Linked DNA regions of Homo sapiens: regions 2 and 3 are each linked to region 1. The links come from fine-mapping of genetic effects on gene expression. A gene starts in region 1. Each other region holds a variant in brackets. All regions are shown on one strand. Distances are from middle to middle. Region 1 holds the start of SLC1A7 (solute carrier family 1 member 7). Region 2 overlaps SLC1A7 (solute carrier family 1 member 7). Region 3 has its middle 23 kb from the start of SLC1A7.

The links. PIP is the estimated chance that this variant, and not a neighbour inherited with it, causes the effect. A credible set is the group of variants that fine-mapping cannot tell apart.
Region 2: its variant is the best candidate, but not a certain one, in a credible set for the expression of SLC1A7 in whole blood (INTERVAL, PIP 0.71).
Region 3: its variant is the best candidate, but not a certain one, in a credible set for the expression of SLC1A7 in left ventricle (GTEx, PIP 0.71).

Annotation. Positions count from the first base shown.
Region 1 is chr1:53,140,272-53,150,901 of GRCh38, forward strand. SLC1A7 (solute carrier family 1 member 7) reads right to left here and starts at 2,367. Exons shown (of 11, transcript NM_006671.6): 1 at 2,044-2,367. The coding sequence starts at 2,178.
Region 2 is chr1:53,098,990-53,103,989 of GRCh38, forward strand. SLC1A7 (solute carrier family 1 member 7) reads right to left here. Exons shown (of 11, transcript NM_006671.6): 5 at 4,357-4,579. Among named protein-coding and RNA genes, the nearest start is that of PODN, 39 kb to the left of the region's middle. The variant C/T (reference allele first, on the strand shown) is at 2,568.
Region 3 is chr1:53,160,621-53,171,442 of GRCh38, forward strand. No RefSeq gene overlaps it. Among named protein-coding and RNA genes, the nearest start is that of SLC1A7, 23 kb to the left of the region's middle. The variant C/T (reference allele first, on the strand shown) is at 5,513.

The DNA of each region.
Region 1 (10,630 bases):
ATGAGTTTGGCTTTTAATAATAGGCATTCCAATTTGTTTTCACAAAATAATCTTCCTGCAGGAGATATATTTTTGTTGCTGAGGAAAATTAAAGAGAACAGATTGCAGATTTTTTTGTTCCATTGCCAGTTTAATGCAGCAGATAGTTGAGCGTTCTCTCTGTGCCTGACACAGGGCTAGGCTCACGTTTTGGTTAAAAAAAAAAACAAACCCATATGTTGTTCAGCAATATGCAGCTTGGTGGGAGAAAGAGACACCCATATAACCAGCTCTGAAGCCAGGCAGCCAGCAGCGGGGTTACAGTTACTTTCATCAGCTATGGATGATGAGATGGTTCCTGATGTAGATAGGACTTTAACAGGTACATAAGGGAGGGAGGGGGAAGTAACACGTAGTAAGCACCTACTGTATGCTGGGCATTGATGAATCCTTGGTTTATTCCTCATAATAATTCTAGTAGACATATACTGCCCCACATCCCATTTTACAGACAAGGAAACTGAGGCCCAGGGAGGAGAGAGGATATTGCCTAGCCATTTGCTAGCAGAGTCAAAGTTCAGGGTTTCTCTGCCTCCAGAGTCCATGCTTCTTCCTAAATAACTGCTCGAGGCTTAACAGGGTCACTATAGTCGTGGCTCAGTTCTCCAGGAGTGGGTGTTTTCCTTTTAATGGAAGACAAAGTCTAATGCCTGACCCCAGTTGTAGAGATGGCATTAGACATTAGTGAGCTGCGGGAAGAGGACTTTCTGGGAATAGGGACTCTTCCAGGAGCCCATTGACAAAGCCTCTCTCCTTGACCACACTTTAGACAGGCTCCTCTGAGCCCTCTTTTCCACTGGGCTTTGTCCTTGGGCCTTGTCTTCAGCCTGCATAGTCCAGCTGTAGCAAAAGTCCTGCCAAGTCAGTTTAGTGAGGATCCCTCACCCTCCAGCATCCTGATACTGGATCAAATTCCTCATCCCAGATCAATGTCTGATCACCCTGGCCTGCCTTCAACAAGAATCCCCCTACCCTGATGTCTCCTGTAGTCATTTTCTGTCCCCGACCCCCTCCCTCTGCTCGCTGGCTATAAATCTCCAGCCATCTTTGTTGTATTTGTGGTTGGGTCCCATCTCTCTCCCCAGGAGGTCTTGATAACTACCCCCCTACCACAATAGTCCTGAATAGAGCCTTCCTTACCAGTTTAACTAGTGGCAGAATGATTTTGTCCTTAACACCATGGGAATGTCCCTCCCTCTCCTGTAGGAGATGGGGGCTGACAGGGAAAGGGGCTCTTTCCCAGGAAACGCAGCTTCTTCATGGCAGTTACACAGGCTGGAAACCCGGGGCCTGGCTCCCCTTCCTGTCCCCCAGCCCACATCCAATCGGCCCCCACATCCTGAAGCTCCCCCTTTTGAAAACAGTTCTCACGTCTGTCCCTTTTGTCTGCACTGCCGCATCTCCCCCAGGCTGCCCCTTCTCGGCCCCCTGCCTGCCCCAGAATCACCCCCTCTCCACTCAGCACCTGAGGGGTCTCCCAAGCTCCAAACTGGCCTGTCGCTCTTCTGCCCAAAAGCATCTCATGGTTGCCGCAAGCCCACGTGTGGCGATGGGACCTATGGGCCTGCTGGCCTCTGCGCTCCGGCCGCTGCACCTGGCATCTGCTGTCACCTCTGCCTAGAGCACGCTTCCTGGATCTCTTGTCATTTGAGCAGCCTTTAGGAGGTGTTCTCTGGTGCCTGTTTGAACTCACACAAGACCCCCCTCTTTCCCCGCCACAGCTCTTGGCCCTGTGTTTGTCATCATGAGGCACCCTCGCCTCTCCTCACCTGATGGTGCTGGGTTTGTAATCACTCCCCAGCCACATCACTGGTTCTTCCCTCTAGTCCTGCAAAGTGTTTATCACACCCATGTTACAGATGAGAAAACCAGGACCCAGAGAGGCAGAGGGATTCACACACTGTCATGGCACCAGGGAGCTGTGATGCTAGAACGGGACCCCAGATCCCTCAGGCCCACACGCCCCTCCTGGACAGGGGTCCCGAGATGCTCTGGGTGGCTGACCTGTGGTGAGAGGCGCCGGGTCCTCAAGAAGAAGCCGAGGAGGCAGCCCACGATGACAGACAGCACAGACAGGATGAGGAGTCCATTCCGCCTGCACACGTCCCTCCCCCGTGCCAAGATGGCATGCGGCACCATGGTGAGCCTGGCCTGCTGGCAAGGGGCACAGCACCATTCCACGCATGAGAGCCCGGCCGGGGGCACAGGGTCTGGGCTGAGGGCTCTAGCCCCTCAGCAGGCAGGTGGTCGGAGTTGCTAAACACCAGTCGCCAGCCCCACGGCCATGCCCGTGTGGCCGCCTTAGAGGGAAGCCACAATCCTATTACCAGCTGCATCATTAGGAGCTGGGAGCAGATTAGGGCCTGGGAAATTAGAGCAGACCACGTGGTCTAGGAGTTCAGGCCTCAAAGCCAAGCGTTCCTCTTAAACAGTTGAGTGGACCAGGTACTGGAAGGAACAAGAGGAACATTTGCTTGGTTGGTTTGATCTTTACCCCTGCTTCCTTCCAGAAAGAATCAAAAACAAGACAGTAAGATATCAGTTTCCCTCAACATTAATTAAGCATTTACTATGCACCAGGTGCCATTCTAGAAGAGTGTTACATGTACTGGCATATTTAATCCTAACACCAATCCCAAGAAATAAGTACTATTAATATCACCATTTTACAGATAAAGAAACTGAGGTGGGTGGGTGCATGTGCTGCGGGCCAGGCCTGTGCTGGCTGCCTTAGCTATGCCAATCATAGGGAATTGTCCCAAAGATCCCAGGGTTCCCACCTTCATTTTTCAGAAAGGGAGGCTGAGACCCCAGAAGCCAGTCCCTTGGCCATGGTCACAGAGGTCAGAAGTCAGGGCTAGGCCAGTCTGTTTCCACCACATGAACAGGCAGATAGGTTCAAGGGTGCTTGGCAGTATTGTGGGGAATGTAGATTCGAGTCCAGGGGACCTGAGTTCAAAGGTGGGCTGTGCCACTCACCGGGAAATGGGACGTAGATGCTTCAGGGCTGTTTCAAGCCTGGTGCTGGGCACCCTGCAGGCTCTCTGGGCCTATTATTTTTTAAAGATGACAGAGCCCAAGAGACCCACATTCGGGTCCCAGCTCTGCCACTTACTAGCTGTGTGACCTCAGACAAGCATTTCATCTCACTGTGCCTCAGTTTCTCCATCTGTAAAATAGAGATGATAACAGCATCTACTTTGTTAGGGCTGGTACAAAATTCCACCCAGAGGGTATTTGGAAACGCAGTGTGAACCCTGGTGTGCTGAACAGGGGAACGGACTCTTAGGGTCATTATCACACTTAGTGCTTTGGAGAATAGGTGTCTTTTTGCTATTTCTTGTGGCCTGGCCTGCCCTGCCCTGTAAAGCCTGGGGGAATTAACCCTCGTCTATTTCACCAGAGATCTGTAATCTCATTAGGAGCAGTCAGGCAGCAGGCAGCAGGGAATGGGAAGTGCAGTCTGCAGTGAGGGTGGGAGGTAAAGGGTGGGGTGCACACAGGGGCTTCCTCCTCCTGACATAGGAGACAGGGGCAGAGGATGAAGAGGACGGGCCAAGTGGGGCATAGGGGAGAGGTGGGGAGAGGGGACTGGGGCACAGGCTCTGAAGCCATGGACAGAGCTCCTGACTGAGAAGATTCTGATCCCAATTTAATCAGCTCTGTGACCTTGCCGTCTCTGGGTATCAGTCTTGTCCTTTTTAGAATGAGAGAAATGGGCCCAGGTACCTTTGTCAAAGGAACTTCATTTCAACAAACCAATCTTCCAAAGCCCCTGCTCTTTGCAGTAGCTTGGGGTGGGGGGTGGGGGTGAATACAAGTCTGAGAGTTTTTTTTCCTCTGACTTTGACTCTTAAAACCAAAAGTTTCTTGCTACACCTTCAACTCCAACAAATGCCTCATTTTCCAAATAATCAGGTGGTTAGTTACTTCCCAGAAGAGAAAATATGCTAAGTAGGTATTTGGATTTGGGTTTTGATCAACTCCTGGGCTCAAACAATCCTCCCATCTTGGCCTCCTAACGTGTTGGGACTGCAGGCATGAGCCACCACACCCAGCCCAGACCTGGCCTTTAGCTGTGCCATGATATAGGTGAGTCTTGCTTTCTACCACAGCTCCATGACTCCCATTCCCAGGACGTGCCCTATAGCCACCACTGACTCCTCTCTCCCACAGGCTGAGCCTACCACTACCTGCCTACCAGACTACAGCCATTCTTTCCACTGTTCCTACGGTCTTCAACAGGAGAATTTCAACTCACTCTAGCAAATGTTCTTATAGCACCATTTAGTGTGCCACACCCCCTGGGTACTAGAAACACAACAGTGAATCAGACAGTACCTGCCCTGCCTTCAGGAAGCTTATAAGAAAGTGGAGAGACCCCAAGAACGGACTAATTCACACTAAAGTGTAAGTGACTGATAATGAGTTTACTAAGAATATTTGCAAATCAAATCAAGTCTCCTGGGTCAGAACCCTATAATAGTTCACCATTGACAAAGAATCAACTGCCTTTTACAATGTCACTAGATGTGCAAGACAATTTTTCCATAATTACATCAAAAGGAAGTTTGGGAAATGCTGGACGAAACAAAAAGTTAAGCACGTTATTTCCTCTGAGACAGCTCAAAGTCAGACTGCTAGAGTTAAAACCTCAGCTCTACCTTCAACCAGCTGTGTGACCTTGGGAACATTTCTTAACTTCCCTGTAAAATGGGGATAATGCAACAGTACCTAGATCATAGGGTTTTGATGTGGGTCATACAGTGCTGCATGCGCCATGGTTAGAGCGTGGCCCAGTGCCTTGCAGATAGCCCCAGGTAGTTACTATGAAAGTCTTTACAGTAGCGGCTGTGTCGGAGGAAGTCACCAAGTGGAGAATAGAGAATCCCACCCCTCCTCTGGAGCAGAGAACTCCCTGGGCCTGGTGTTTGGAGAACACGCCTGGGAAACCCCGGTCTGCAGCATCGAGTCTATGCTCCCCTGCAAGGCACTTTCACCCTTTTCCTCACCCTTTCAGCATTACCTCCTACTCCTTCCGTCACCCCTCCAGCTCCTATGACACCAAACCACTGCAGGGTCCTGGAACGCTGCATCCTGTCTCAGGCTTCTGCACCTTTGCCTGTGCTATTTCCTTGGCCTAGAATGTCCTTCCTTGTCACGAAAGTTACAGGTTAAATCCCCCTCTTCTTCGAAGCCTTCCCTGATTACCCTAGATACAATACCTTCTCTTTTTCTCACTCTAACTCAGGCCCTTCACAGTCACCAGCTGGGGATTCACCTAGCTCCCTTTTAAGTGGCTCTGACAAGGAAATAAGAATCTATGAAAATAAAATCAAATCTCTGTTTGTTACCATGTCATTTGAAATCACCTCAATGGAGAATCCTCAAAGTTGGAGGGTATATTGGCAGGGGCAGCGGGGTGCTAGGGATAGCCTGAGGAGCAAGGTGTTGTATAATGGGCAGCAGGCGGCCTCAGAGATGCTTCTGGGGAGGCTTGAGCTGGACAGACTGAGATGCTATGGCAAAGAAGAGACATGGTGTTGGCGAAAATGAACGCCAAGTCACAGGTGCAGCTGCCTCACCCTGCAGAAGCAGGTGTGCAGTTGAGCTGTTCTTCACCGGGCCCTCTGCTTGGGTTATGCTGTGGGGAGAGCAGCAGGGGTTGACTTATTTGCTAATGATTAATGATTAATGATTCGCCAGGGCTACAGGCAGGGCCAACCCAGCCTGGGAAGGCGGGGATAGGAAGGCTTCCCAGAGGAGACGTGGTTTAGGCAGAGGCCTCAATAAGCCAGGGAAGGGGGTGCTGGTCAAGGGAGAGGGGAGACGACAGTCTGATTTAGGCCGGAGGCGTGACAGCAGGGCCTCCCAGGGCTAGCAGTGCATCGGTGGGCTGCAGTGGCCATCGGGGCTGGGGCCTTACACCTTCCACCATGTGTCAAAATGAGTTTAGGTCTGGCCGGGTGAGCTCCCATCTGGGTCTGTCGTGACGACAGCTCGGGGTATGTTGGCTGCTTTCCAGAGACATACCAGAGGCGCCTTAATCTCCCTGACACGTCTTCCCAGCTCGCTGGAAGCTGGGCCCTTCCGGGAAGGTTTTCTGTGGGCAACAAATGCAGCTGATCCAGCTGGGTGTGGATTCCTGCGAGCTTTAGTCACCGAGGGGCTGTCCTGACCTCGCTGAGGGCTAGTCCTTTCCCACATTTGCCTCAGAGGATGGGAGAAAGTGACTCTGTGGTGGCAACTCAGACACACGCCTTCCTTTTTCCCTTCCAGTCCCCCGTCTAAATCTGTCACTTAATGGAAATGAGGCCTGGGCGCCCATAAGCCCCTGAGCCGCTCTGTGTTGAGCACCGACTGTGTACCAGGCTCTGGCTGGGTACTCTGACACCTTCACCTAGAAGGGCCCTGACCAGGGGGAGCCAGGGACCCCTCCACATTCACTGGGTCAGTCAAGCCTGGGGGCTCTAAGTCTGTGCAGTACAATTACATAGCATCCATTACACTACTTAAATTGAAATTAATCAAAATTAAATAGGACCAGGCCCAGAGGTTCATGCCTGTAATCCCAGCACTTTGGGAGGCTGAGGTGGGAAGATGGCTTGAGCCCGGGAGTTTCAGACCAGCCTGGGCAACATGGGGAGACCCTGCTTATACAAATAATTTTAAAAATTCACTGGGCATGGTCGTGTGTGCCTGTGGTCTCAGGTACTTCGCAGGCTGAAGTGAAAGGATCATTTGAAGCCTGGGAATTTGAAGTTGCAGTGAGCCGTGATGGAACTGCACTCTATGCTGGGCAACAGTGTAGGATCCTGTCTCAAAAAAAAATTTATATAGTTTAGAATTCAGTCCCTCCGTTGCACTAGCCACATTTCAAGGGCTCAATAGCTGTATGTGGCCAGTAGCTACCATGTTGGACAGCACAGTTAGAGAACGTTTCCATGATCACAGAAAGTTCTACTGAACTCTCTACAGTCACCCTGAACCAAATTCAAAGCTCAGCCTTTGGCTTGGAAGGTGTGCGACTTTGCCGAAGTTAGCGAACCTCTCAGAGCCTCTTTTCTGTGCCTATAAAAGCCCATGCACTTTCCATTGCATCATACTTCCTCTCATTTGCATATAAAAGTTAGGACAAAGTATAAAGTTAAACCCTCCAGCCAGTTTAGATTAGGTTTCCAAATTAGTTAGGATTTTTGTTAATAAATACTAGGAAACTAAATCAAGCTGGCTTTGGTTAAAAGGGAATTTATAAGCAGGGCTGACTGTGTAATTTGTGAGGCCCACTGCAAAATGAGCACGTGGGGCTCTTCTTTCCAAAAGCAGGAAAAAAGTGCATCAAAGGTACTAAAATATATAGCTTTATTTCTTCCACAGTTTCTCTCTCTCAACTTATCATGATGTTTTTTATTTGTGATTTTGTCATTCTTAAGTAAATAAAAATAACAATTTTAAATTAGTAGCATTAACTTTATCATTCACCTTTTTTTTTTTTTTTTTTTTTTGAGCTGGAGTCTTACTCTGTCACCCAGGCTGGAGTTCTGTGGCTTGATCTCAGCTCACTGCAACCTCTGCCTCCTGGGTTAAAGAGAATCTCCTGCCTCAGACTCCTGAGTAGCTGGGATTACAGGCGCACACCACCACGCCCGGCTAATTTTTGTATTTTTAGTAGAGATGGGGTTTCACCATGTTGGTCAGGCTGGTCTCGAACTCCTGACCTCAAGTGATCCGCCCACCTTGGCCTCCCAAAGTGCTGTGATTACAAGCATGAGCCACCGTGTCCGGCCCTTCATCTTCACACTCACTGTGCAATGCCAGTTTTAAATGCAAATATAAGAGCATTTAACTCACATGCAGAATCACCAAAGTTATACAGTTTGTATTTAGTAGCTCATACATGCGTGTGTATTTCATTTTTTGCCAGATGGTGGAAATGCTGCACAAAACTAATCCAACTGTTTTTATTTCACTTCTCAATGCATATCCATTCCATCTGTCCTCTCTACCTTTGACTCACTGATGAGTAAGGAAGAACTGGAAAGAAAAGGAACTCTGGTGGTCCTCTCATTCCCTTGCTGTTGATGTTATCACTTTCAGTGTTTAAGTAGTTGGCTAATGCAGGTGAGTAACACTAGTAAGAAAGGATATGATAAAATTCCTTGGTCGTTTGCATTTTTAGAATGCAATTTTTTGTTCTTCCTATGTTCGAAACAAGTTCTGGTTTGAGGAAAGTGAGGCTTCTCGTGAGTCTTGGTGCCTCTGCTTACTTAGCTGTGGACATAACACACTTACCTGACACCTATTTGAGTCTTGCTGAACTCCCATGCGTTGCCAGTTTACCAGAACTCTGTGCTCATGGGACATTACACACGCTGTATGAGGATGGAGTGGCAACTACCAGTGGCGGCATGTATATTGGACGTGTTTTTTCTGTTTGTGTGTATACTCTATTGTCCCATCAGACTTTGCTTATAAGACACAAGTTCAAAGATAAAATTATTAAGAATTTAGTGACAGTGACAACAGAGCATTAAACCAAGCACAGGGGCCCTTCTGAGCATGGGGCCCTGTGCTACTGCGCAGATCATAGAACCAGGAAACCGGTCCCATTTATAAGACCAGGTGAGCATGGGTTTTGCAGAACCCAAGGACAAGAGCAGAACTGAACTGCAAAGACCCTCTGAACCAGGTACTTGATTGTTAATGGAATTATCTCTCACACCAGCTCTCCTTTCTACATGTCTGATTTGTCCATTCATTCTTCATTCAACATATATATGTTGAGAGGTGGCATAAGGTATTGATTAAGAGCACAAACTCAGGAACCAAATGACTTGTGTTTGAATCTTAGCTCCTTCACCTACTCTTTTTGGAACTGTAGGCAAGTTACTCTGTGTTCCAGTTTTAGTTTTCTCATATTGAGTGTAGGGATAATAATATTCTACCTTATAGGGTTGTTATAAGGAGCAAATGAATTACATGTATGAAGCTTAAGACAGTTGTCTGATCATAGTAAGCACTATCTATCTATCTATCTATATCTATGTTACTATTATTACTATGTGCCAGACATATTCCGGACACTTGGAATACTGTAATAAACCGAAATAGACAACAATCCCTGCTTTTATAGAGCCTACATTTGGTGATGACATTTATGTTACATTATTCTTTCTCTAATGAACCCATCTCCACTACTACTGTGGTCCACAGGGAGGAAGCATGGCCACCAGCAGCTCTGTTTCACTCCAGTGCCACAGTTCTCAGGGAAGGTTCTGACTGGCCCAGTTTAGACCAATCTCCTGCAGCCAGTAGGGGCAGGGAGCAGGGTCACATTATTTACAGTTGCTGCTTCTATGGTAACTCTGTAGATGTGTGTAGTAGCAGTTAGAAAAGTGGATACATGAGGCAGACACAGCAAAATATCTAGTACATTGTCCCAGGCACTCAGCTCTTGGCATGGCTTGCTTAGTAAAACCTTGGTTTTCTGTTCTTTCTTGTGTAAAATGCCTAACATCTTATATCCAGTGAGGCTGCTCTAGAACTTAGGGTCAGTGGCTCGAGGTTCCTTGTTGCTTGTCTTCTTCTCTGATGTCTGCCTCGGCCCTTTATGGCAGCAGGCACCTGGGGCCTCACCCACAGAGTGCACAGGATTCACCAATGTTGTTGAGTTGTTGATTCATCAATGTTGTTGAAAAAATGTTAATTTTCTTCTCTGTGATATAGCATTCCATGATATGAATGGAATATTATATATAAGATACTGTTTATGAACGTTTGTGGTTTTTTTTTCCAGTTTTTGACCATCATTTTAACAACGCTGCTAGAAACATTCTTGAATACTAATGTACATGTACAAGAGTTTCTCTAGGATATATACGTAGCAATAGAATTGCTAGGTCACAGATTATGCAGATGGTCAACGTTAGTAGGTAATAACTGTTTCCAAATTAGTTTTACCAACTAATATGTTCACCCACAATGTCTGTAAGTTCCCATTGTTCCGCATGGTTACTGACATTTGATATTGATTAATTTTTAACTCTTGCCAATCTGGTAGGTGTGAAATGGTGTTCCATAGTGGTTTAAATTTGCATTTCCCTGATTAGTGAGACTGAATATATTGTCCTATGTTTGTGAGTCATCCATGCCTCCTCTTTGGTGAAATTGCTGTTCATTTGCCTATTTTTAATTGGGTTGTTTGTCTTTTCACATACATTATAAATATTCTTTATATAATCTGGATATTAACTCTTTATTGTTTATATGTGTTTTCCTGTTTATGACTTATCTGTCTTTAGATAAACAGAAGTTCTAACTTTTAATGTAACTGAATCTATCATTCTTTTTTGTTATGACTTGTCTCTGTCTTATTTTAAAAACCTCCCACTCCAGTAAAGTTATTCTTCTGTGTAAATTTCTAAGAGTAGTTTACTTTTCCTTTTCTCATACAGGTAATTAACTAACCTGGTTAAAGACTGATGTAAGAGTCTAATATCCCGTTTTCTTTAAGATCTACTAATTGTCCTAGTATCACATATTGAAAAATCTATCCTTCCACCTGAAACTAAAATGGCTGCTCTGAAATAAA
Region 2 (5,000 bases), 44 kb before region 1:
ACACACCACCTCTCATTACACTTATACTGCCTCAAAACACTCACACCCTGCCTCTGTACACTCACAACCCACCTCTGTACACTCACACACCCCGCCTCGGTACATGCACACATACCGCCTCGGTAGGCTCACACATACCATCTCGGTACAGACACACGCTGCCTCGGTACACTCACAGAGTCTTGGTACACTCACATAACCTGCCTTGGTACACTCATACACACCGCCTCAGTACACTCACACACCGCCTCGGTACACTCACACTGCCTCAGTACCTCACATACCGTCTCGGTACACACACATACCCCGCCTTGATAGACTGACACACACCACCTCGGTACGCTCACACTGCCTCAGTACCTCACATACCGCCTCGGTACACACACATACCCTGCCTTGATAGACTGACACACACCACCTCAGTACGCTCACACAGCCCGCCTCGGTATACTCACACAACCTGCCTCGGTACACTCACACACCTCGCCTCAGTACACTCAACCGCCTCAGTACACTCACTCACACCACCTTGGTACACTCACACACCCCACCACAATACCCTCACTTTGCCTCGGTACACTGACACATACCACCTCAGTACACTCATACCCATTGCCTCAGTATACTCACACCACCTTGGTACACTCACACACCCCGTCTGAGTACACTCACACACCTTGCCTCAGTACACTCACACTGCCTCGGTACACTCACACACACCACCTCGGTACACTCACACCCCTCCTTGTTACACACACACCTTACCTTGGCACACACCCTGTCTCAGTACACACACACACCATCTCGGTACACTTACACACCCCACCTTGGTACACTCACACACCCTGCCTCAGTACACTCACACATACCACCTTGGTACACTCGCATTGCCTTGGTACATTCACACACCCCAACTCAGTACACTCAGAAACCATGCCTCTGTACATTCACACACCACACCACCTCGTTATACTCACACCATCTCAGTACACTCACACACTCCATCTGAGTACACTCACACACCTTGTCTTGGTACACTCACACCACCTTGGTACACACACACCTTGCCTCTCTGTACACTCACACACCCCCACCTTGATACCTTCACATACACCACCTCGACACACTCATACACCCCGCCTCAGAACACTCACACATCCACATACACCCACACACACCACCTCAGTACATTCACACACCCCACCTTGGTATACTCACACACCCCACCTTGGTACACTCATACAACCTGCCTCGCTACACTCACACGCACCGCCTCGGTACACTTGCACACCCAACCTTGGTACACTCACACACACCGCCTCAGTACACATACACACCCCGCCTCAGTACACTCACACAACCCAACTCAGTACACTCACACGCCCCACCTCGGTACACTCACACACCCCGCCTCAGTACACTCACACGTCTTGTTTCAGTACACTCACACGTCCCACCTCGGTCCACTCATACACACTGCCTTGGTGCACTCACAAACGCTGCCTCGGTACATTCACACACACCACCTCGGTACACTCGCACACCCAACCTTGGTATACTCACACACACTGCCTCAATACACATACACATACCACCTCAGTACACTCACACAACCTGCCTCGGTACACTCACACAACCCGTCTCGGTACACTCACACACCTTTCCTCGGTACACTCACACGACTTGCCTCGGTACACTCACATGCCTTGCCTGTGTACACTCATACATACCACCTCGGTACACTCACACACATTGCCTTGGTACACTCACACACTGCCTTGGTATACTCACACACTTTGCTTCAGTACGCTCACACACCCGCCTCAGTACACTCACATCACCTCGGTACACTGCCATACCCCGCCTCAGTACACTCACACACTTTGCCTTGGTACACTCAGACTGCCTCAATACATTCACACACCCCACCTCAGTCCACTCACACACCCTGCACCGGTACACTCCCACACCGCACCTTGGTCCACTCACACACACCACCTCAGTCCACTCAGATACCCTGCCTTTGTCCACTCACACACCCCACCTTGGTACATTCACAAAACCCGCCTCGGTACACTCACACACACCACCTTGGTACACTCACACACACCACCTCGTTACACTCACACACACTGCCGCAGTACACTCACACACCCCGCCTCAGTACACTTACACACCCTGCCTCGGAACACTCACACAAATCGTCTTGGTACTCTCACACTGCCTTGGTACACTCACATACCCACACGCACTGCCTCGGTACACTCACACACCCCACCTCGGTACACTCGCACACCCCACCTCGGTACACTCGCACACCCCACCTCGGTACACTCACACACCCCTCCTCGGTACACTCGCACACCCCGCTTTGGTACACTCACACACACTGCCCCATTACACTCACACACACTGCCTTGTTACACTCACACTGCCTCAGGACACTCACACATCTCACAACGGTACACTCACACCACCTCGAAACACCCACACACACCACCTCGGTACACTCACACACCCTGCCTCAGTACACTCACCCTGACTCGTCACACTCACTCACCCTGCCT[C/T]GGTACACCCATGCCTACTCGGTACACTCACACAACCCGCCTCAGTACACTCACACACCCCACCTCAGTACACTCACACACCTTGCCTCGGTACACTCACACTCCTCATCTTGGTACACTCACAAACCATGTCTCGGTACACTCACACCAGCTTGGTACACTCACACAGTGTCAGTACACTCATACACCCTGCCTCAGTACACTCACACACCCTGCCTCGGTACACTCACACACCCTACCTTGGTACACTTACACACCGCCTCGGTACACTCACACGCACACTCAGTACACTCACACGCCCGCCTCGGTACACTCACACTCTTTGTCTTGGTACACTCACATGTCCCACCTCAGTACACTCACACGCCCTGCCTCGGTACCCTCATACGACCTGCCTCAGTACACTCACACAAATGTTCACAGATGCACGGACAGTTACACATGCGCAGCGAACGCTCAGCGAGTTGAGTCCAAGGGTCTCCGGTTCTTTTGTTCTGCCAGTAGATGCCCTTCTCTTATGTTCCCAGCCCTGAGAAAGGCTGAGTTTGGGGACTGCTTGTCAGATGTGCCGAGAGGCACTTTCAGACATTTTCGTTTCACACACTTGGGTCACCGAGGCCCCGGCCCCTCTGCACACCTGGCGTTTTGGCCCAGATGAGAAGAGCTCCATTACCCATTGTCACCCAGCCGTCCACCCATCTCCCTACCAGGTCTGCTGAGTGCCTGCTGTAGCCACGGCAGCGGTGGGCTCTGGGGTGGATGGAGACAAGCCCGTCAGCCTGTATGGGGCTGGTCATGGCTGTGCAGACAGCAAGCAATGATATCCTTGCAATCGAGTCTAGTGCTCACAGAGTAACCAGGCAGTGTAGCTCGGGGCACTCGGCCTAGTCTGCGGAGGACTCTCCTGAGGGCATGGCACTTGTGGGGAGCACCCTGAAGATGACAAACGTGGAGGGGGAGTGGCAAGAGCAGCCGGGCTGAGGGTTGTGCGGAGAGGAGCACACGGGCCAGTCTCACGGGGCTTTTCAGCCGGCACTAGGGGTTCGGCCCCTTTCCAGGGGCAATGGGCAGAGCACGGTCAGACTTGTGACCTCCTGAGCTGGACACACCAGCAGGGACAGCCGTGGAAGTTTTCTAGGCAGCTTTCACAGGAACCAGGCGAGAGACCACACGGCCTTGACCCGGGCAGTGACGCGGGGTAGAAGGAAACGCACGGCTTGGAGGGGACTTTGGGGGCAGACCCGACCGGATGCAAAGGTGGGGGCCAAGGCAGAGGACGAGGTAGAAAGTCACCCCTAGAGTTTTTGCATGAACGAGGTTGGTGAGGTCTTTTCCTTGACAAGAAAACCCAGTGGAGGAGTCGGGGATGGCAGGCAGGACATTTCCACAGGCTTTGTGGGGTCTGAAGCTTGTATAATTTGGGACCCATCTTTAAGAAAAATAACACAAAATTTAAAAACCAAGGTGCGGGCCTCCAAGGGGCTTGCATAGGTGAGGGGCCTGGCATCCCAGAGGAGGGCAGCAAAGGGAAGGGTGTGGCAGGGATGCCAGCTGCGGGCCTAAGAAATGGCCCAGACGGGCCTGAGGGGGAGGTGCCAGGGGGAAGCCCCTGGGGTGGGGTGGGGAGGCGAAGGATTTAAATAAACAGGTGTGGTGAATATTTCCAGTTTTTCACAGTAAACCTCTCCAGCATTCTCCCCAGACCTCAGTAAGAGGTGGAGGAGCAGGCTGCTGGGAGGGGCTGGGGGCCCGGCTCCACGGCACTGCTGGGCAGGTGGGCAGCACATACCCATGGTGGCAGAGAAGAAGACGATGCCCAGCACATTCATGCCATCGCTGGTGCCCGGCTCTGACTTGTAAACGACCTCGGGCGGCGGGGTCAGGTCCAGGGCGAAGTTCTGCACATGGGAGCCATTCTCCTCCTGGACCCCGTAGATGAGGATCCGCCGAGGAGGGGCCTCCTCTGGTGCCACCTTGGGGGACTTGACAACTGGGGTGGTCTTGGTGCGGTACTGGTGGGTGACACCCCACCCAGAGAGAAGTCAGGGCCAAGGGTTGTTACTAATATTAACGACAACAATAATAGCATCTTGAAGGCACATTTGTATCCATTCCTATCCTATTTGATTGACAGTAACCCTGTGAGGCAGGCAGAGCAGGGATTGCTATCAATATTTTACCCAAAGAAAGCTGCAACTCCTTCCTCTACCACCACACCACCCAGCCACGCTGCCTCCTGCCTTCATTCCTCTTCTTACTTCTATACCTCATCACCCCATCTGGGTCCCTCTTAACTGCCTGCCCAGCCCCTTATCCACCCAAGTAACCCTTTATCCACCCATCTGTCCCCTCCCAATCATCCAGTATCCATCCACCTGGTGGCCTGCTGGCCCTGCTGCCCACCAGGTGGAAACTTGGACCTTCTTTTTGAAG
Region 3 (10,822 bases), 20 kb after region 1:
TGTGGCTCAGAAAATCCATCATGAAGTCAAAGAATGGTTAAGTCAAGCCAACCTATGTTGGGAACCACCTGTATAGTGATATATATTAATATTTATATTGAAAAATCATAGGAGAAAACATGTAGCTCAAAAAAAAATACTACTTTCTTTGTGCCTGACACAGAGTGGATACTACATAAATATATGTATACAAATATTATAGATAAAACTAACTTTCTTTTGGTATCTGTTACCTTCTTTAATTTTCAAAGTTGATGCATAAGGTGGATTATAGGAAGAAAAGGTGGTTGAGGGCCACAGGCAGAGAAGCTGGTTCCCTCCCTCAAGTCCAAGAGGAGAGCTCAGGCCAGAGATTGGAGATGAGGCCAAAGAGGTCTGCTGGACCCTGAACCAGAATGAGAACATCTGAATGACTTCTGAGCAGGGCAGGGGCCCAGGCATCGTGGCTGCCAGTCACATGGGGTGTGGGAAGCCTGGCCTGGGCCAAAGGTCCAGGGCCACAGAGTATTGTCCTATGAAGGCAAGAAGGCCCCTAGCCCTAGGCCCCTCCCTGTTCCCACAGTGGGGTTGTGTACATGCTCACTCGGATTCCACAGGGCAGGGGTCACATAGCTGAGGCCACAAAGCCAGTATGGGGAGAGCCTGGTGCTCCCCCAGCCACCTGACTATTTCCATTCCCTGTGGCTGGTCCACAGGGAACCATGGCATCCTGGTTGCAGGTACCCACCCAGAGAGGAGTGGAGGGGAAAGGAAAAAGGGGTGCCTTTTCCTTGAGGGAAGGGGCCTGGTCATTTGCTTCTGATAGGCCCTGATCAGCCCTGTAATAAATTTTGAATGAGTTACTAAATTCTGATTTTCAAGAACTAAATTTTAGGTAGAAAACAATATTAAAAATTAAAAGTCAAACCAAAATTTAAAAAACTACTTAAGTGACCAGGCACGGTGGCTCATGCCTGTAATCCTGGCACTTTGGGAGGCCAAGGTGGGTGGATCACGAGGTCAGGAGTTTGAGACCAGCCTGACCAATATGGTGAAACCCCGTCTCTACTAAAAATACAAAAATTAGCTGGGTGTGGTGGCGTGCTACTGTAATCTCAGCTACTTGGGAGGCTCAGGTAGGAGAATTGCTTGAACCTGAGAGACAGAGGTTGCAGTGAGCCAAGATCATGCCACTGCACTCCAGCCTGGGCAACAGAGTGAGACTCCGTCTCAAAAAACAAAACAAAAACTACTTAAGCATAAGTCAAAAAACAAGAGACAAACTGGGAAAAATTATTTGCAGCTCATATCACCAAGGATTAATTCCCTTAATATATAAAAAGCTTCTAGAAATAAAGAAATACAAGATTATTAATTGATGTGGTTTTGCTGTGTCCCCACGCAAATCTCATCTTGAATTGTATTATAGTTCCCATAATCCCCATGTATTGTGGGAGGTAATTTAATCATGGGGGTGGTCAACGTCATGCTATTCTCATGACAGTGAGTGAGTTCTCATGAGATCTGATGGTTTTATAAGGGGCTTTTCCCCCTTTTGCTCGGCACTTCTCCTTGTTACCACCTTGTGAAGAAGGACATGTTTGCTTCCTCTTCTGCCACGATTGTAAGTTTCCTGAGGCTTCCCCAGCCATGCTGAACTATGAGTCAATTAAACCTCTTTCCTTTATAAATTACCCAGTCTCAGGTATGTCTTTATTAGCAGCATGAGAATGAACTAATACCTCAATCTCACAGAAAAAAGAGCAGAAGACACAAAAAGGTAGTTTACGGTCAAAGAAATACAGATGGCTTTAAACATATGCAAAGGTGGGCAACTTCATTCAATAAATATAGATTAAAACTACACTAGGTGGCTGGGCAAGGTGTCTCACACCTGTAATCCCAGCACTTTGGGATGCCAAAGTGCTAGGATTGCTTTAACCCAGCAGTTCAAGACCAGCCTGGGTAACATAGAGAGACTTCATCTCCACAAAAAAATAAAAAATTAACTGGGCACGGTGATTTGTGCTCGTAGTCCCAGCTACTCGGGAGACTAAGGTGAAAGGATCTCTTGAGCCTGGAAAGTCGAGTCTGCAGTGAGCAGTGATCATACCACTGCACTCCAGCCTTGGTGACAAAGCGAGACCCTGTCTCAAAAACAAAACAAAACAAAGTACACTAGGCTACAACTTTTCACCTCACAGACTGGCAAAATCCCAACACATTCTGTTGGTAAGTTTGTGGTGAAGCAAAATGCTCTCATTCATTGTAGATGGGAATCCTTAAGGAGCAGCAATTTGACAACATCTATGACATTTCCAAGTTTATTTACCCTTTGATCCTGCATCTCACATCTAGGAATTCATCCTCTGATATGCACAAGCACGAAATGACACATGTGCAAGGTTAGCAACTGCCATAATAGCAAATAGTAACAGCAAAAGATGGAAATAACCTACGATCATTCAGTGGGAATTGGTTAGTCTGTGATACATCCACACGATGACTTCATAGGGATGTATAGAAAATAATAAACTTTGTACCTAAATGGAAAGATCTCTAGCATACATTAAGTAATAAAACTATGGTGCAGATTAGTAATTGTGTAAGAAAAGAGAAAACAAGAATAAACACCTGTGTTACCAGTATTTATGAAAGAGACATTGGAAAGACACATTAGAAACTAAGAGGAATGTGTGTTTATTAACAGAGAGCAGCGGTTCTCAAACTTCAGCGTGGATTAGCATCACAGGGAGGGTTTGTTAAAATGCAAACCACTGGCTCCCGCTCCTACAGCTTCTGATTCAGTGGGTGCGGAGTGGAGCCACAAAACCTGCATTTCTTTTCTTTTTCTCCTTTTGCTTTTTTTTCTTTTTTCTTTCTTTCTTTATTTTATTTTATTTTATTTTTTGAGACAGGATCTTGCTGTGTCATCTTGCTGTGTCACCTAGGCTGGAGTGCAGTGGCGCAATCCTAGCCCAATGCAGGCTCATACTCCTGGGCTCAAGAAATCCTTCCGCTTTGGCCTCCCAAAGCTCTGGGATTGCGGGCGTGAACCACCGTGCCCTGCCTAAAAATGTGCATTTCTAACAAGTTCCCAGGGGTGCTGACGCTGCCAGTCAGGGAACCAAGTTTGGGCCAGAAAATGGAATGGAGTTAGAGGCTGGAGCAGGTCTTCTCAGGGTACATCTTTTCTATTTTGATTTTTTAAAAACTTGCAAATCTATTACCTACTCAAAAATAAGCTTAATTCAAAAAACGTTTAAAATGTTCAATAAAAGAAGCTGCTCCTCAGTCACTCCCTACTTTCTTAGCTTGTTTTGTTTTTCTTTACAACAATTAATATTGTACCTAAAATTATGCTATTTTTTTTTTTACTTTCTCTCCCAACTAGAATAGGGTAAGGACATTGTCTTCTATTTCCCTCTATTTCCAACACTAATATTGTGCCTGCCACGTAGTAGGTACTCAAGAAATAGCTGTTTGGCCAGGTGTGGTGGCTCACGCCTGTAATCTTTGGGAGGCTGAGGTGGGTGAATCACTTGAGGTCATGAATTCGAGACCAGCCTGGCCAACACGTATTTTTCTCTACTAAAAATACAAAAATTAGCTTGGCATGGTGGTGTATGCCTGTAGTCCCAGCTACTCAGGAGACTGAGGCAGAGGAATCTCTTGAACCCGGGAGGCAGAGGTTGCAGTGAGCCGAGAACGCGCCACTGCACTCCAGTTTCAGTGACAGAGCAAGACTCCATCTCCGAAGAAAGAAAGAAAGAGAGAAAGAGAGAAAGAAAGAGAGAGAGAGAAGGAAAGAAAGAAAGAAAAGAAAGAGAGAAAGAAAAAGAAAGAAAGGAGGGAGGGAGGGAGGGAAGGAAGGAAGGAAGGAAGGGCTGTTGAATGAATAAAGGGAATGAATGAATTCTCTTAGTCTTCAGTAGATCAGTGATCTTGGTAAGTCACTGGAGAGCTTTTAAAACATACCCATATCCCCATCAAATCCCCAGTTCTGAGTGAATTGTTTGGGGGTGGGGCCCCGCATTGAGTTGAGGGTGATGGGAGCCCCTGGTCTAAACCACAGCTATGTAGAGACTTATGGTTTGGATTGTGCATATAAAGTGAGTATATTAGTATATAGACCCTGCTGCATTTTTGTACATTGCTTTGGGGGCTGGTTCTGAGGCTCTTTTTGATCTGGAGACCCTAACATCCTTTCCCTCTCTTTTCTCTTTCAGTTGCCTACAGATCTGGAAGCCTTGCTGAAAAGACACCTTAATGGCCTAGCAGCTCTTTTAGGCAAGGAGCAATTCAGATGTTGAATGATGGAACACAAAAACCCACAGCAGACATGGTGGCTGATGCTTGTAATCCCAGCACTTTGCAAGGTTGAGGTAGGGGGATTGCTTGAGCTCAGAAGTTTAAGACCAGCCTAGGTAACACAGTGAGACCCCATCCCTACAAAAAATCAAAAAATTAGCTGGGCATGGTGGTGCACATCTGTAGTCCCAGCTTCCTGGAAGGCTGAGGCAGGAGGATCTCTTGAGCCCAGGAGGTCAAGCCTGTGGTGAGTTGTAATTGTGCCACTGCACTCCAACCTGGGTGACAGAGCAAGACCTTGTCTCAAAAAAATAAAATAAATTGGTGTTGCGGTTAATGGTCTTCATGTAGGTTTTTCCCGCTGTGGAGCAGGGCAGGACAATGAGTCTGGATGCTGGCTCCCCTGCATTTTAGTTCTGCAGTGAAGTTGTGGGGCCTGAGGGCTCAGGACACTGTGCTGCAATCATGCTGCATAGTCAGAGTGAAAAAAGACTGGGTTAGGGAGTCACAGAGTCACAGCATCCAGCCCCATTGGCCATTCAGCAATTCTGTGACCTTCCATCTCTGGTCAGTTTCCTCATCTGTAAAATGGGGATGCTAATGCCTGTCTCTTAGGGCCACTGGGAGAATGAAATGTTAGTTATTTTTCGGCTTTTCAGTTGAGTTATTGCATCAGCTACGTTCGTAGTTTACCCCCTTGGTTTATTAAGTAATAGTTGTAAAAGTTTATAACAGGTCACGAATTGGCGGCACCTTTGTATTGATTGGCACTCAAAGTGACTTACAAAAACTTGGCTTAATTGCCAACATTTAAAAACTAGGGATCTTACATAAAAATCTGGATTTGTGGCTTCATTGGAAACATCTGCATGACCACAACTGCTGGAGCTGAGAGTCAGCTGCTTGTTCCTGATCCCAAACCCCATGACTCCTGGACACCTTCTGCCTCCTACCCCTTATCTCCCTGGATTCCCTGAGTGGCTTGCTGCTGGAGGCTGTGAGTACCTAGTTTATAACCCCAGTTGATAAAGTGCTTTCACCTGCTTCATCTCATTAGACTTTTACCTATGAGGGAGGTGTTAGTATTGTTCCCTTTACAGGAGAAGAAACTAAAGCTGAGATGTTACAGGACCTACTCTGGGTTAGTAATAACAGCAACCGCAATAAATAGTAATTTGTACTGGCTGTTTACCATGTGCCAGGCATTATTCTAAGCACTTTA[C/T]ATGTTTAATTTAATTCTCTCAATCTTATCAGATATTGTCATTATTCCTATTTTATGAATAAGGAAATTGAGGTAGTGACAGGTCAAGTAGATTTCCCAAAGTCACACAGCCAGAAAGCTCAAAATAAACTGAAGACTTCTGGGTCCTAATCCACACTTGTTCCAGAGTCCTGCAGTGCAGGCTTTCCTTCCTTTCTCTCTTTCTCTTCTTTAAAATGGGTGAGTCTATGGGGCCCAGCTTCTGGTAAGAGTTTGTAAGTGTTGTTTGGTGGGAGGGGTGGGCTCGTGTTTTGTAGGATTTGTTCCCTGCTGCCTCCTCAGCACCTGCAACAATGCCTGGCATGTGGCAAGAGCACAAGAAAGAGTGAAAGCCAATGGCAACAGGGCAACATCGGCAGCTTTCAGGGCTCCAGTGTCTCTAATGATTGGCACACGGGCGAAGACCTACTACGTGGCATGCAGTGGGTGGGCTCCCAGCTCTTGAGCAGCTCAAGTCCAGGTAAGAATCACTGACAAATGAAATTCAAATATGGGGTGTGTGTGGACATGAGTCGCTTGCCAAAAAGTTACCTTTCCCCTTAAAAATAATCAATGACCCACTTGTGATATTTGCATTAAAGGCTAAACATTGAATAAGGGAAGTCAAGGCTGCAGTGAGCTGTGATTGTACCACTGCACTCTGGCCTGGGTGACAGAGCAAGACCCTGTCTCAAAAAGGACAAAAAAAGAAAGAAAGAAAAAGTCCGCCAAACAAAAACCACTCGGATTTATGATTCACCTCCTTTTTGCTTTAGGAAAACAAATTATTGGCCATAATTCTCAAAATGGAGTTGGAAACTGAGCTGCTAGCACTGGATGACCTCTATCAAGAAACTAGCTACATCTCAGGAACAAGATAGTTTCTGTTCAGTTCAGCCAACCCGAGCTCCTGCCTGGGCTGGGCGTTGGGCTGGGCACCGAGGCTGCACAGCTGCTGAGCTCTGGCCCTGCCTCCAGGAGCTCAGTCTGTGGGATATGTACTGCACAGAGACAGCTCGGGACTCTAGACATAGCTCGGAGGGTAAGGGAAGTCTTCCCGGGGGAGGTGTCAGCTGGGCTGAGTTTCGATGAACTAATGTTGTCCAGGTGAATAAGGGAGAGAATGGATAGAAAAAGCGCAAGGCAGTAGTGAGACTCATGAGAGATCTGGAAACTTCACAGCTTCTGTGGTTCTCCATGGACTTGCTGTTGTCTGAGTGTCCACATGAGTGAAGGTGGAAGAATGGGTGTGGGCTCTCTGTCCAGGCAGGTGGGGTCCCATCAGGGATAATCAGTATCTGCCCAGTAATGAAGATTGTTTTGACACATGCAGGTGGTGCTGCACTCTTCCTTCCAACCACTGCCCATTAGGGGACAGGCCGAGTCAGTTTGTGCCTATCTTGCCCTATCTCCTTCAATGAAGAAAGTGAATGCTGCAAGTAATACATGTTCATTGTCAAAAACTAAGAAAAATGTAAATACCCCATAGGCCAGGTGCGGTGGCTCACACCTGTAATCCCAGCACTGTGGAAGGCAAAGGCAGGTGGACTGCCTGAGGTCAGGAATTTGAGACCAGGCTGGCCAACACAGCAAAACCCCATTTCTACTAAAAATACAAAAAATTAGCTGGGCGTGGTGGTGCATGCCTGTAATCCCAGCTACTCAGGAGGCTGAGGCAGGAGAATCACTTGAACCCGGGAGGTGGAGGTTGTGGTGAGCTGAGATTGCACCATTGCACTCCAGCCTGGGCAACAAGAACAAAACTCCATCTCAGAAAAAAAAAAAGAAAATTCCCCGTAATCCAACCCTGAGAAATAACTTTTTAGTTTATATTCCCAAATATTTTTCTATGTCTAAATTTTTTGTTTTGCAGAAACATACATATTGGTTTTTTTCTTTTCTGTTGTGGTAAAATATACATTACAGAAAATTAGCAAAATCATGGAACCAACCCAAGTGTCTACCAGTGGTTGACTGGATAAAGAAAATATAGTACACATACACCGTGGAATACTATGCAGCATGAAAAGAATGAAATCATGTCCTTTGTAGCAACATGGATGGAACTGGAGGCCATTATCCTAAGTGAAGGGGTGGCCTGCCCCTCCACACCTGTGGGTATTTCTAGTCAGGTGGGATAAGAGACTTAGAAAAGAAAGAAGACACAGAGACAAAGTACAGAGAAACAACAGTGGGCCCAAGGGACCGGCGCTCAGCATACCAAGGACCTGCACCGGCACCGGTCTCTGAGTTCCCTCAGTTTTTATTGATTATTATCTTCATTATTTCAGTAAAAAGGAATGTAGTAGGAGGGCAGGGTGATAATAAGGAGAAAGTCAGCAACAAACACGTGAGCAATAGAATCTATGTCATCATTAAGTTCAAGGGAAGGTACTATGATTGGACGTGCACGTAGGCCAGATTTATGTTTCTCTCCACCCAAACATCTCAGTGGAGTAAAGAATAACAAGGCAGCATTGCTGCAAACATGTCTCGCCTCCCACCATAGGGCGGTTTTTCTCTCATGTCAGAATTGAACAAATGTACAATCGGGTTTTATACCAAGACATTCAGTTCCCAGGGGCAGGCAGGAGACAGTGGCCTTCCTCTATCTCAACTGCAAGAGGCTTTCCTCTTTTATTAATTCATCTCAGCACAGACCCTTTACGGGTGTCGGGCTGGGGGACAGTCAGGTCTTTCTCATCCCATGAGGCCATATTTCAGACTATCACATGGGGAGAAACCTTGGACAATACCCCACTTTCAAGGGCAGAGGTCCCTGCGGCTTTCCGCAGTGCACTGTTCCCCTGGTTTATTGAGACTAGAGAACGGCGATGACTTTTACCAAGCATATTGCTTGTAAACATTTTGTTAACAAGGCACATCCTGCACAGCCCTAGATCCCTTAAACCTTGATTTCATACAACACGTGTTTTTGTGAGCTCCAGGTTGGGGCAAAGTGGCTGGGGCAAAGCTACAAATTAACATCTCAGCAAAGCAATTGTTTAAAATACAGGTCTTTTTCAAAATGGAGTCTCTTATGTCTTTCCTTTCTACATAGACACAGTAACAGTCTGATCTCTCTTTCTTTTCCCTACACCTAACTGACAAGCAGAAAGTCAAATATTCCATGTTCTCAGTTATACATGGGAGATAACAATGGGTACACATGGACATACAGGTGGAGAAAACAGACAGCAGGAACTACAAAGTGGGGGTGGGCTGACAAATTCCCTATTGTGTGCAATGTTCAATATTTTGGCAAAGCTCAATATGGTGGGGATTGGGATTCTAGTGTACCCATCACTAATAAAAATCAAAATAAAAAATCAAATCACACTACACACATGCAAATATGTGACATGATGGATATTTTAATTAGGTTGATTTAATTATTCTGTAATGTATACATATATCAAAAAATTCCATTGTACCCTGTAAATATATACAATCATTGCCAATTTAAAAAATTCATTGTGGGCCAGGCGTGGTGGCTCACACCTGTAATCCCAGCAGTTTGGGGGGCCGCAGCAGTTGAATCACCTGAGGTCAGGAGTTCGAAACCAGCCTGGCCAACATGGTGAAACCCCGTCTCTACTAAAAAATACAAAAATTAGTGGGGTGTTGTGGTGCATGCCTGTAATTCCAGCTACTCAGGAGGCTAAGGCAGGAGAATCACTTGAACCCGGGAGGCGGAGGTTGCAGTGAGCCGAGATCATGCCATTCATTGCACTCCAGCCTGGGCAAGAGAGCGAGACTTCGTCTCAAAGAAAAAAAATACATTGTGAAATTAAAAAAAAATACTTTCTCATAAAATTTACAATTTACAATTTTATCCATTTTTAAGCATGCAGTTCTGTGGCACTGAGTGCATTCAAATTGTTATGCAACGATCACCATCATCCATCTCCAGAACTTTATTTTTATTTTTTTATTTTTGTATTTTCTTTTGAGACAAAGTCTCACTTTGTTGCCCAGGCTGGAGTGCAATGGCACAATCTTGGCCCACTGCAACCTCCACCTCCCTGGTTCAAGCGATTGTCCTGCCTCAGCCTCCCAAGCAGCTGGGATTACAGGTGTGCACCACCACGGCTGGTTAATTTTTGTATTTTTAGTAGAGATGGGGTTTCACCATGTTGGCCAGGCTGGTTTCGAACTCCTGACCTCAAGTGATCCACCTACCTCAGCCTCCCAAAGTGCTGGGATTACAGGTGTGAGCCACCGTGCCCGGCCCAGAACTTTAAAAATATTCTCCAATGGAAACTCTGCATCTATTAAACAATAACTCCCCATTTTCCCTCCTCCCAGCCCCTGGCAACCATCATTCTACTTTCTCTGAATGCCACCACTCTACGTACTTCATATAAGTAGAATCATAAAATATTTGTCCTTATGTGGCTGACATATTTCACTTAGCACAATGTCCTCAACGTTCGCCCATGCGGTAGCATATATCAGGATTTCCTTCCTTTTAGGCTGCAGAGAATTATGATCGCGCCACTGCACCCCAGCTTGGGTGACAGAGTGAGAACCTGTCTCTTAATTAAAAAAAAAAAAAAAAAGAGTCCAGGCATGGTGGTTCACTTCTGTTAATTCTACCACTTCGGAAGGCCAAGGTAGGAGGATCCCTTGAGTCCAAGAGTTTGAGACCAGCCTGGGCAACATGCTGAAACCCCATCTCTACAAAGCCCACAAAAATTAGCTGGGTGTGGTGGCACACTTGTGGTCTCAGCTATTTAGGAGACTGAGGTGGGAGAATAACTTGAGCCTGGGAGGCTGAGGCTGCAGTGAGCCAAGATCACACCACTGCACTCTATCCTGGGTGACAGAATAAGACCTTGTCTAAAAAAACAAAAGAATTTCCTTCCTTTTTAAGTCTGAATAATATTCCACTGTATGTATAGATCACATTTTGCTTACCCATTCACCTGTCAATGGACATTTGGATTGTGTCTATGTTCTAGCTATTGTATATACTGCTTTTTAACTTAATCTATTATGAACATCTTTTCAGATGAATAATTAAATTTTCCCAATGCCTTTTTTAGTGGCTGCTTTATAGTACATTACCTGACTGTTCCACAATGTAGTTGACTATTCCTTGAGGGTTGGAAATTTAGTTTGTTTCTGATTTTTTGCTCTAATATACACGGCTGGAATAAATCCCCTACGAACAACATCTTTGCATGCCTGGCTGATTATGACTTTCAGACAAAAGAATGTGCACAGGTTTCGGCCTCCGGCACCCATTGCTGGGCCCTTGTTACAAGCAGCCTGTGCATCTGAGGAGGC